2 separate regions of the Homo sapiens genome follow, and region 2 is linked to region 1. The links come from fine-mapping of genetic effects on plasma protein levels. A gene starts in region 1. The other region holds a variant in brackets. All regions are shown on one strand. Distances are between the middles of the regions.

Region 1 (5,332 bases):
ACCGATGGCCCCGGATCCCGCGCTGCCCTGGCACAAACAAACGCGGCCAGCCATGGAGACCAGACCCAGGACCAGCCGCCCACTCAGCATGGGCTACGCCAGAGACTCAGACGCCAGGAGTGAGGGTCGGGGCGATCCGCCTGGTGAGAGCACAATGTCAACACCCGCCCCGCGATCCCCGCATCCGCCCTAACCCCACGCCCGGACGTCCACACCAGCTCCTATAGGGAGCCCGCCTTGATGCCACACGGGGAGACCCGAGACACCGCCCCTTTTCTCTACGTGACGTGGTGAATTCGACCTCCAGCTGTGGAAGTGAAGGGACAAGCGAAGATTAGAAAGGCCCGCACGCGAGGCGCGTTCGTTCCTTAGGGGATTTGCAAAGAATGGGCAAAAGTAGGGCATGTGCAACTGCGTACTTGTGGTTGGGCCGAAGCCCCTGTGTTCCCTGTGAAGCCCCGGAGACGCCCCTTCTACCTGCCGCTCAGCCTCGGCCACTGCGATTCCCGCTCAGGGCCAGGACTCTGGACGCTCCGGAGCAAAATGCAGTCCTGGCGCCCTTCCTGAGGCACGCTGGGAAATGGAGTCCTCGCTGCGCGTTGGTAGCACGGGCAGGCACCACGTGGTGCCCTGAGGGCTCATGGGAACTGTAGTCTCGGATTCTCCCCACTGGTAAGGTGGTCAGAAAGTCTGAACCCAGCAATGCAAAGAAAAAGGGAATTCACGCGCAGTTGGGATTGGGATTATTAGATCTATTTTACTGCCAATAGATCTTGTAGATCATCCAGCCCAACTCCTTTATTTTATATGCAAGAAAATGGAAGTCTGATTGAATACATAATTACTGTGCCCCAGACTAGTGCTGGGGACTGGGGAGTCAAGTCAGGCCCTGTTTTCAAGGAGACAACAGAGCACTGAAGACTAACAAGTGAGCGGACAATTGCAATACTGGGTACTAGGTGCTACGATGAGATAAACACAGGATGCTAAGGAGGCAAGTTACCCAGACTTGGCCGGGGTTGGAGAGGTGGAATGGGAGGCGGGCAGAGAATATTTCCGAGATTTAGGGAAACAGTTCAGCAGAAACAACATGAGAATCCATTTCTCAGTCCCTCATAGTGAGGTTTTGGCTTTGGTAGCTGCATGTGTAAAGGACAGGAGGAGAGAGAATTTTGAGGGAGTCTTTCCTTCTGGTGTAGTTAGGGTGTGGTTATGTGTGGTTGGAGCCTAGGGGGCAGCTGATGGTGATGAGTAGGGTACCAGGAGGAGAGGAACGGGCCAGACCACCCCAGGCCTTGTAGCCCTTGTTAGGCAATTTTGTCTTTATCCTAGAAGTAGTGGGAAGCTACTGAGGTTTTAAGCAGGGATGTAACAGGATGTAATTTTTCCAGGATGATTCTTAACTTGTAAAATTATTTAAATTTTATTTTGTATCCTTAATATATTTACATATTTCTAAATGTTTTTCCCCAACTTCTCATTTTGAAAAATGTCAAAGCCACAGAAAAGTTGAATAGTTCAAAGCAACACCCTCTACCTTTCACTTGACCCACCATTTTTTGCATTTATATTTATTTTATACTTGTACATATATACTCATATATTTAAGTACTTTACATATACTTTAAAATATATTTATATGCTTTTTTGGATGAACCATTTGAAAGTAAGTTGCAGATAGCATGACATTTCACCCCTAACTACTCCAATATGTATCTCCTAAGAACAAAGATATTCTCATACATAACCACAATAACCTTATCACACTCAAGAAATTTAAACTATGACATACACTGTTTTCCCTAGCCTTTAAAAAAAATTAAAACTTCCAGAAAATTTGCAAGATTAATACAATGAGCAACCCATTTATCCACTCTTCACCTAGGTTCACTGATAAGATTTTGCCAGACTTGGCTTTGTATCTCTTTTAATGTATGTGTGTATAATAATAATGAAATAATAATAATTATTTCTGCTGAATCACTTGAGTTAGGTGCAGAAATCTTATTTATTTATTTTTTTTTGAGATGGAGTTTTGCTCTTCTTGCCCAGGCTGGAGTGCAATGGCGTGATCTTGGCTCACTGCAACCTCTGCCTCCTGGGTTCAAGCAAGTCTCCTGCCTCAGCCTCCTGATTAGCTGGGATTACAGGCATGTGCCAACATGCCCGGCTAATTTTGTATTTTTAGTAGAGACGGGGTTTCTCCATGTTGATCAGGCTGGTCTGGAACTCCCAACCTCAGGTGATCCACCCTCCTCGGCCACCCAGGATTACAGGGATTACAGGCGTGAGCCACTGCGCCTGGCCCAAAATTCTTTTTTTTTTTTTTTTTAAACAGAGTCTCACTCTGTTGCCCAGACTGGAGTGCAGTGGCGCCATCTTGGCCCACTGCAACCTCCACCTTCTGGGTTCAAGTGATTCTCCTGCCTCAGCCTCCTGAGTAGCTGGGACTACAGGCTGGTGCCACCATACCTGGCTAAATTTTTTTGCATTTCTAGTAGAGATGGGGTTTCACCATGTTGGCCAGGCTGGTCTGGAACTCCTGACCTCAAGTGATCCTCCTGCTCTGGAACTCCTGACCTCAAGTGATCTGCCTGCCTCAGCCTCCCAAAGTGATGGGATTACAGGCGTGAGCCACTGCACCCAGCCACAAAATTCTTTTTTTTTTTTTTGAGATGGAGTTTCGCTCTTGTTGCCTAGGCTGGAGTGCAATGGTGCGATCTTGGCTCACAGCAACCTCCGCCTCCTGGGTTCAAGCGATTTGCTTGCCTCAGCCTCCCATGTAGCTGGGATTACAGGCGTGCGCCACCACTCTGGCTAATTTTGTGTTTTTAGTGGAGACGGGGTTTCTCCATGTTGGTCAGGCTGGTCTTGACTCAGGTCATCAGTCCGCCTCGGCCTCCCAAAATGCTGGGATTATAGGCGTGAGCCACTGCGCCTGGCCCCACAAAATTCTTTACACTTAATTGCTATGTACTTTCAATGTGTATCTCCTAAGAACAAGGACATTTTCATACATATCCACAATACCATTACCACATCCAAGACATTTAACATTCATACAATACTATAATCACATACAGTTGATATTCAGATTTCCCCAACTGTCTCATTGGTGTCTACTATAGTTTGAATATGTCTCCTCCAGAATTCATGTTGAAAATTAATCCATGGTGTTGGTATTAAGTGGTGGGGCCTTTAGGAGGTAATAAGGCTATGAGGGCTCCACCCTCAAGAATGGACTAACGCCTTTTGAAAGAGCTTGAGGGGGTAAGTTGGCCCCTTCTGTCCCTTCTGCCATGTAAGGTCACCTCGATGGCGTATCTATGAGGAACTGGCCTTCACTAGATACCAAACCTGCCAGTGCCGTAATCTTGGACTTCCCAGCCTCCAGAACTGTGAGAAAATACATTTCTGTTTATAAATTACCCAGTCAGTGGTATTTTGTAATAGCAGCACAGTCTAAGTAAACATTATAAATGTTTAATTTTCAGAAACCAATCAAGGATCATGCATTGCATTTAGCTGACTTTAAGTTTGTATTCTGCAAAGATCACTGGCTTCAGGGTGGAGAATGGATTGTAGAGGAGGCAAGAGTGGAAACAGGGAGACAAGTTGGGAGGTTACTGTAGCAGTCTAGGTGAGAGATGATGATGATTTGGACCAAGGTGGTGGTGGTGGTGGTGGAAATGGAGAGAAATTGTGGCTACAGGATGTATATTAGGAAAGTAAAACCTACAGGGTGTGGTAATGGCTTGGTTGTGGGAGGGAAAGTGTCAAGGATAATTACAAGGTTTGTGCATCTAAAGTTAAAAAAAACAGTTCAAATAATTCCTGTATATCCTTTATCCTGATACCTAGATTACCCAAATATTAACAATTCACTGTTTGTTTTATTTGTATGTACCTATCTACAAATATATAATTATTTTCTGGACTGTTTGAGACTAAGTTTCAGAGATAAAGCCTATTAAACTCTACCTGTGATGGTTAACTTTTTTTTTTTTTTTGAGATGGAGTCTCACTCTGTCGCCCAGGCTGGAGTGCAGTGATGCAATCTTGGCTTACTGCAACCTCTGTCTCCTGGGTTCAAGTGATTCTTGTGCCTCCGCCTCCTGAGTAGCTGGGATTACAGGCGTGGACAATGGCGCCTGGCTAATTTTTGTATTTTTAGTGGAGAGGGGGGTTTCACCATGTTGGCCAGGCTGGTCTCAAACTCCTGACCTCAGGTGATCCACCCACCTCAGCCTCCCAAAGTGCTGGGATTAGAGGCGTGAGCCACCACGCACGGCCTGTGATGGTTAATGTCCCAACTTCTAGAGGATTGGTGCTCAGATATTTGGCCAAATATGGGTGCTTCTGTGAGAGTATTTTGAATGAGATTAACATTTGAATTGGAGACTGAGTAAATTGCCCTCCCTAATATAGGTGGGTCCCATCCAACCAGTTGAAAGCTTGACTAGAACAAAAGACTGACCCACTCCGGAGTAAGAGAGACTTCCTTCTGCCTGACTGCTTTGAGACCCGGACATTGGCTTTTCTCAGCCTTCAGACTCAGAAGTAAACACTGGCTCCATCTGGGTCTTAGACTCGGCCTTTGGACTGGAACTACACCATTGGTTCTCAGGCCTTTGAACTTGGACTGGAACTATATCATCAGTTCTCCTGGGTCTCCAGCTTGCCAACTTACCCTGAAGATCTTGGGGATCTTGGGATTTATTAGCTTCCATAATCAAAAAGCCAATTTTTTATAATAAAACTATCTATCAAAATATCTACCATTCGTTCTGTTTCCCTGGAGAATCCTGACTGATGTATATTTACTTAAAAAAAAAAATTTTCTCACATAGCCGGAATATAACTGTCAGACTCTAGAAATGAACACAGATACGGTACTATTATCTAATCTACAGACCTTATTCAAAATTTGCCAATTGTTCCACTACTATCATATATATAAAATGAAAAGAAATATCTTCTGGTCCAGGATCCAATCTAGGATGACGTGTTGCATTCAGTTGTTATATTTCTTTGTTCTCCATTAACTTGAAATAGTTTCCTAGATTTTCTTTGTCTTTCATGACTTTGGTAATTTTGAAGTTACAGACATTTATTTTGTAGAATGTCCCTCAATCTGGGTTTGTCTGATGTTTCTTTATGATTAAAATTTAGCACATGCATTTTTGGCTGGAATACTGCAGAAGTAATGTTGAATTCTTCTCTGTGAACCTTACCAGGGCACGTGATCTTTTTGTTATTACTAGTGATAGTTCTGATCACTTGATTAAGATGGTATCTGTCAGGCTTTTCCACTATAAAATTCCTTTTCTGT
Region 2 (5,376 bases), 13 kb before region 1:
GTTTGGGGTGGTTGGGGGAGGGGGGGAGGGTCCTGGATCTTCTGCCAGAGAAGCTGGTTAGACTTTCTCTCACTCAGATGGGAGTTTCCAGGGGACAGGATGTAGTCTTTGATGGCCTTTCCTGACAGGGACTCTGAGGAGGAACCCCGTAGACTCACAGAGAAAGAATCGAGGCCTTACTCTGCCACCAAATTGCCATGGGGTCTTGGACAGGTCTCTTCTTCCTGGGGCTTGGTTTGGGCATGGGAAAATGCAAAGTTTGGAGTAGATGATTTTAAAGATTAATTCCAGCTTTGGTTTTATGAAGGCAGTGAAAAACAGGAGAGTTTTTGGACCAGAAATATTGAGACTGGAAGGAGTAAAGGATGGATTTTGTGTGGGAGATTTCCTGGGAAGATGAAATGAATTGGAGCCCCTTTCCCCAGGAACAAATGAGAGCTCTCCTGCTGCTTTGAGGGATCAAAGCAGGGAGAATAGAGAGGACCCTGGGGTGGTCTGTGATCCTAGGCACACCCATTCCTCCTTCAAAGTGAGCCAGGGGTAAAGGTGTCACTGTGTGTGTGTCAGAGTGAGAAATGAGACAGACCGAAGAGAGTGGAGAGTTTGCAGGTTCTCCCATATCTTCATTCCTGCCTTTGAACCCCTGGCCTGCAGAGATGATCTTCTATCTTTGCTTACACCATTCATTTTCTCTCACTTGCTCTAATCTCTGGGTAGACTTACCTTCTAGAAGTTTTTCAGATCCTTCAGCTCCCTCAGTGCTCATCTCCTGGGAGAATTAAGGTGTGTCTGCTCACACCCCCTCTGCCTGTTTTCCTCCTCCTTCCAGGCCTCATCGTCTACCTGGGCATGATGGTGGGAGCCTTCCTCTGGGGAGGTCTGGCTGACCGGCTGGGTCGGAGGCAGTGTCTGCTCATCTCGCTCTCAGTCAACAGCGTCTTCGCCTTCTTCTCATCTTTTGTCCAGGGTTACGGCACTTTCCTCTTCTGCCGCCTACTTTCTGGGGTTGGGTGAGTGTACACTTCCTAAGTCCCTTGAGGGCAGGACTGTGCCTTGGTCACTGTTGTATCTTTAGGGCCCAGCACAGTGCCAGGCACACCAAATGCACCTTAAATCTGTGTGAGTTGAACGGATGAATGAGTTCCTTTCTCCCCCAGCCATCTTCAGGCCAGCTCCTCCCTGCCCAGGACCTGTCTGCTGCTGTCCAGAATGCTGTTCCTTGGCCCACTCCTGAGTCCTCCACCCCACCTCTAGTTCCATTTTTGAGCCTGCCTCCACAAAGAGGCCTAGTGGGCCTCAGCCCCACCCCTGGGCTCCTGTGGACCCAGAGTTACCCCCTACCAGAGTCTACACATTTCCTGCATTACACAACAAACCTTGCTAACACCCACACCTGCCAGAACCCTGACGCCTTGTCCGCACTGCCCCTTCACTTTTGCAAGCATGGCAGGCCCGCTTACTCTGCTTCAACTCCAAGCTCCTTTCTGGCCATTCCCACAACATCTGCCCTTGGAGGCTTTTGGCTTGTCTTTTTTCTCTGGAGATTTATTCTCTTTTCTGCAATTACTTTCCCGCCCTTCCAACTCTGTAATTCATTTTCAAGATTTAAGATTTGCTCTTTCCCTTTCCCTGAGACTCGCTTGCCTGTTTCCCATGGTCCCAAGGATGGGTGCTTGATGGCTGGCCCACATGGGAGCTTGTAAGGCTTTATGTGTGAGATGGAGTCTCTTCAAAAGCCTGGAAGACAAAAGGGGCTCGGGGTCCAGAGCAGTGGGGCAGGGGATCAGGACTATGGCCATTTGCTAATGCTGAATTCTTGAAATGCACTTCAGGATTGGAGGGTCCATCCCCATTGTCTTCTCCTATTTCTCCGAGTTTCTGGCCCAGGAGAAACGAGGGGAGCATTTGAGCTGGCTCTGCATGTTTTGGATGATTGGTGGCGTGTACGCAGCTGCTATGGCCTGGGCCATCATCCCCCACTATGGTGAGCAGCCCCCGGAAATCCACCCCAGGTTATCTCCCTCCTCCCTCTTCTTCTGTGCTCCCTGTGGTGGGTTCCCCCAGCCTCTGGCCTCTCTGCTGATGCTGTCACTTTCTCCCTACCAGGGTGGAGTTTTCAGATGGGTTCTGCCTACCAGTTCCACAGCTGGAGGGTCTTCGTCCTCGTCTGCGCCTTTCCTTCTGTGTTTGCCATTGGGGCTCTGACCACGCAGCCTGAGAGCCCCCGTTTCTTCCTAGAGGTGATGGGGCTGAGCTGCATGGGGTGGGGTGGGGTGCGGGCTGTGGAGTGTGGACGGCAGCAGGGGCTTCTGTGTTCAAACACCAACTGGAGTTTGATTTGATCCTGTTTGACTGCCTGCCTTCCTCACAGAGTCCACTCTCCAGGGGACTTTATCTTGCAT[T/C]CTTTGCCTTGGAATGTGTCCCTGAGGGGTTCTTGGGTGGAGAAACCAGGGGACCTCTTTACCCATGGATGACTTAAGATTTTGCAGGGAAGGGCCTTGGCCCTGTCCTGCATTTACAGCTCAAGAGACATTCCCACCCCCTATACCTTCCCCTCCTAACCCCAGCAGGATTAGGTCTTTGACTACATGCTTGCCCATCATTTCCCTTACCTTTGGTTTTTACATTCCTCTGTACTATGGAATTCCCAAGACCTGTGCTTGCCTTTTTCCCCTGGACAACACTCCCCACCCCCAACCCGCAGCTCTTGCCCAAGTCTGATTGTCTTGCTATACCTCAGCTTGGGGCTCTTTCAGAGTGGTGAGTGCATGCCCATAGGTCAGGGCTTGGTGGTGGGGTTGAGGGCTGGGAACCATTTAGTGTCCTGTGACTACAGAAGCCAGGTGGGAGGGAGGGGGTCTATAACTCTGGGTCAGGTAGGGGCTGACTTGGATGTGGGGATTGTGTCTTTGGCTCTAGAATGGAAAGCATGATGAGGCCTGGATGGTGCTGAAGCAGGTCCATGATACCAACATGCGAGCCAAAGGACATCCTGAGCGAGTGTTCTCAGTAAGCCACAGCCCTCCCGACTCAGACCTCCACGCCCTGCAGCCCCAGCCCCTACCTGGCCCCTCTCTGAGTACCCCCCACCTCAGACCACACTCTACCGTAAGGAGATTTTCAGGGTATCATATCCACCTCCTGCCTCCCATTTTGCTAATGCAGGGGAAACTGAGGCGCCTGGCCGATGTTGGGAAACACAGAGTGTGTGACTGCCCACCCCTTCTCTTGACCCCAGGTAACCCACATTAAGACGATTCATCAGGAGGATGAATTGATTGAGATCCAGTCGGACACAGGGACCTGGTACCAGCGCTGGGGGGTCCGGGCCTTGAGCCTAGGGGGGCAGGTAATGGTGGACGGGGTGGTAGATAGAAGGGAGTGGGGGAAGTGGAGAAGAAGGCAGGACTGAAGTCTATGTGTGTGGGTGATGGGTGAGCTGAAGGGAGGTGGGAGGGCAGAAAAGTGGGGATCTATGGGTGCTAGAACTTAGTATAGTCAAGGTCTGACTTTGTCTGGTCCCCTGTAGGTTTGGGGGAATTTTCTCTCCTGTTTTGGTCCCGAATATCGGCGCATCACTCTGATGATGATGGGTGTGTGGTTCACCATGTCATTCAGGTGAGGAGATGGGTGGGCTGGGTGATGTGTGGTGGTTGTGGTGGTGTGTGGGCTGGGAGAGAGGTGGGGAGAATGGAGATGCAGGGGACAAGCGATGAGGGAAGGTGCCATGCAGACCCCCTCTGATCCTGCAGCCAGCTCCTCTACTTCGCTAGTTCACTCAACAAACTTGTACTGTAGGCTGACCAGGATTCAGTTTCTATTCTGTGCTGGGATGAAACAGATGTGGTCCAAGGTCCTCCTGGAGTTTATGTTTTGGTTAAGAAGCAGGACGATGAGGCTCGTAATCCCAGCACTTTGGGAGGACGAGGCGGGCGGATCATGAGGTTAGGAGATCGAGACCATCCTGGCTACGGTGAAACCCCGTCTCTACTAACATACAAAAAATTAGCCGGGCATGGTGGTGGGCGCCTGTAGTCCCAGCTACTCTGGAGGCTGAGGCAGGAGAATGGTGTGAATCCGGGAGGCAGAGGTTGCAGTGAGTCGAGATCGCGCCACTGCACTCCAGCCTGGGTGACAGAGCGAGACTCCGTCTCAAAAGAAAAAAAAGAAGTGAGACGAAACTTGCTATGAAGCAGGGTGATGAGAGAAGGGTGGGGGAAGGGCAGTGGGAGCACTTGGGGCTTGGGCTGGGGTGGGGACCTAAGTCCTCAAAGGTGAATGGGAGTCAGACAGGTGGAGTGGGGGTGGCTGGGGTGGAGAAGAGTGTTTTTGGCAGAGGGAAAAGCAAATGCTTGGGAGGTAAGAAAAAGTATAGTGGCTGCTGTGCGAGACCCTGAAGTCCCCCAGGAGCGCAGCAACTGTTGAAGGGAGGAGCAGGGAGAAGCTGGTGAGGCTGGAGAGGAGCAAGGTCCTAACAGAGGTTGACTCCATTTCTCCCTTGTTCTGAGATGATACACATTTCCGTTTTCTCCTCTGCCTGATTCTAATCTCTGAGCCTTGTCTGAAGCCCTGTTGTCTGTTTCCATTGTCCTTGACTCTTCAGCTACTATGGCCTGACCGTCTGGTTTCCTGACATGATCCGCCATCTCCAGGCAGTGGACTACGCATCCCGCACCAAAGTGTTCCCCGGGGAGCGCGTAGAGCATGTAACTTTTAACTTCACGTTGGAGAATCAGATCCACCGAGGCGGGCAGTACTTCAATGACAAGTATGTGGGGACTTTTAAACTTCACTTCTTCCCTGTTCCTTCTACCTCGTCTCTTTTATGAGTCTAGGGGTTCAAGACAAGACATTTGGGGGGCAAACACTTGTGGTTTCTTCTCAATGCCCAGCTTCCCATTACTTCGCTAAAGAGTGAGTCTTGGAGGGGGCATGAGGATGACGGGGGAGTGTCTTTCACCATCCTGGCCTTACAGGTTCATTGGGCTGCGGCTCAAGTCAGTGTCCTTTGAGGATTCCCTGTTTGAAGAGTGTTATTTTGAGGATGTCACATCCAGCAACACGTTTTTCCGCAACTGCACATTCATCAACACTGTGTTCTATAACACTGGTAAGGCGGGGTGGCTGGTGGGTGTCAGACCAAAGGGTTGGGTGGACCTTGATGAGAAGGAACCTTTTTCATTCACTATCTTAGGGTTCTCAAGCTGAGATCCCTGGACCCCTGTGGGAAGGTGGCAGAGGGGCCTGATAGCTACCACCAATAATTCTGAAAATCTAATGGATGTTGGACATTTTCCTGTAATAGAATATCTGACAAAAACATCAAGTTTATTTGCCTTTGGCTGAAATTATAACTCAGTGAGGTAAAATTAATGC

Which allele goes with the higher level. Positions count from the first base shown, and alleles are read on the strand shown. Strength reflects both the effect of a copy and how common the allele is.
With allele C in place of T in region 2, the plasma level of the protein whose gene starts at base 582 in region 1 is lower (strong association).

The links. PIP is the posterior inclusion probability: the model's chance that the variant is causal. Protein levels are from antibody-based Olink assays in UK Biobank. Linkage for the fine-mapping came from a reference panel and not from the study's own genotypes, which makes the PIPs less certain.
Region 2: its variant is fine-mapped to the plasma level of the BOLA1 protein (UK Biobank, PIP above 0.99).

What each region holds. Positions count from the first base shown.
Region 1 is chr1:149,894,818-149,900,149 of GRCh38, reverse strand. BOLA1 (bolA family member 1) reads right to left here and starts at 582. Exons shown (of 2, transcript NM_016074.5): 1 at 478-582; 2 at 1-140. The coding sequence starts at 90. It overlaps LOC124904412 (a long non-coding RNA gene), which reads left to right and starts at 602. Exons shown (of 2, transcript XR_007066597.1): 1 at 602-672; 2 at 4,429-4,774. RefSeq lists an enhancer at 489-548.
Region 2 is chr1:149,907,434-149,912,809 of GRCh38, reverse strand. It overlaps SV2A (synaptic vesicle glycoprotein 2A), which reads left to right. Exons shown (of 13, transcript NM_014849.5): 3 at 830-1,010; 4 at 1,833-1,984; 5 at 2,107-2,240; 6 at 2,920-3,009; 7 at 3,239-3,349; 8 at 3,530-3,618; 9 at 4,604-4,768; 10 at 4,977-5,110. Among named protein-coding and RNA genes, the nearest start is that of SV2A, 7.7 kb to the left of the region's middle. RefSeq lists enhancers at 1,632-2,131, 2,132-2,633. The variant T/C (reference allele first, on the strand shown) is at 2,403.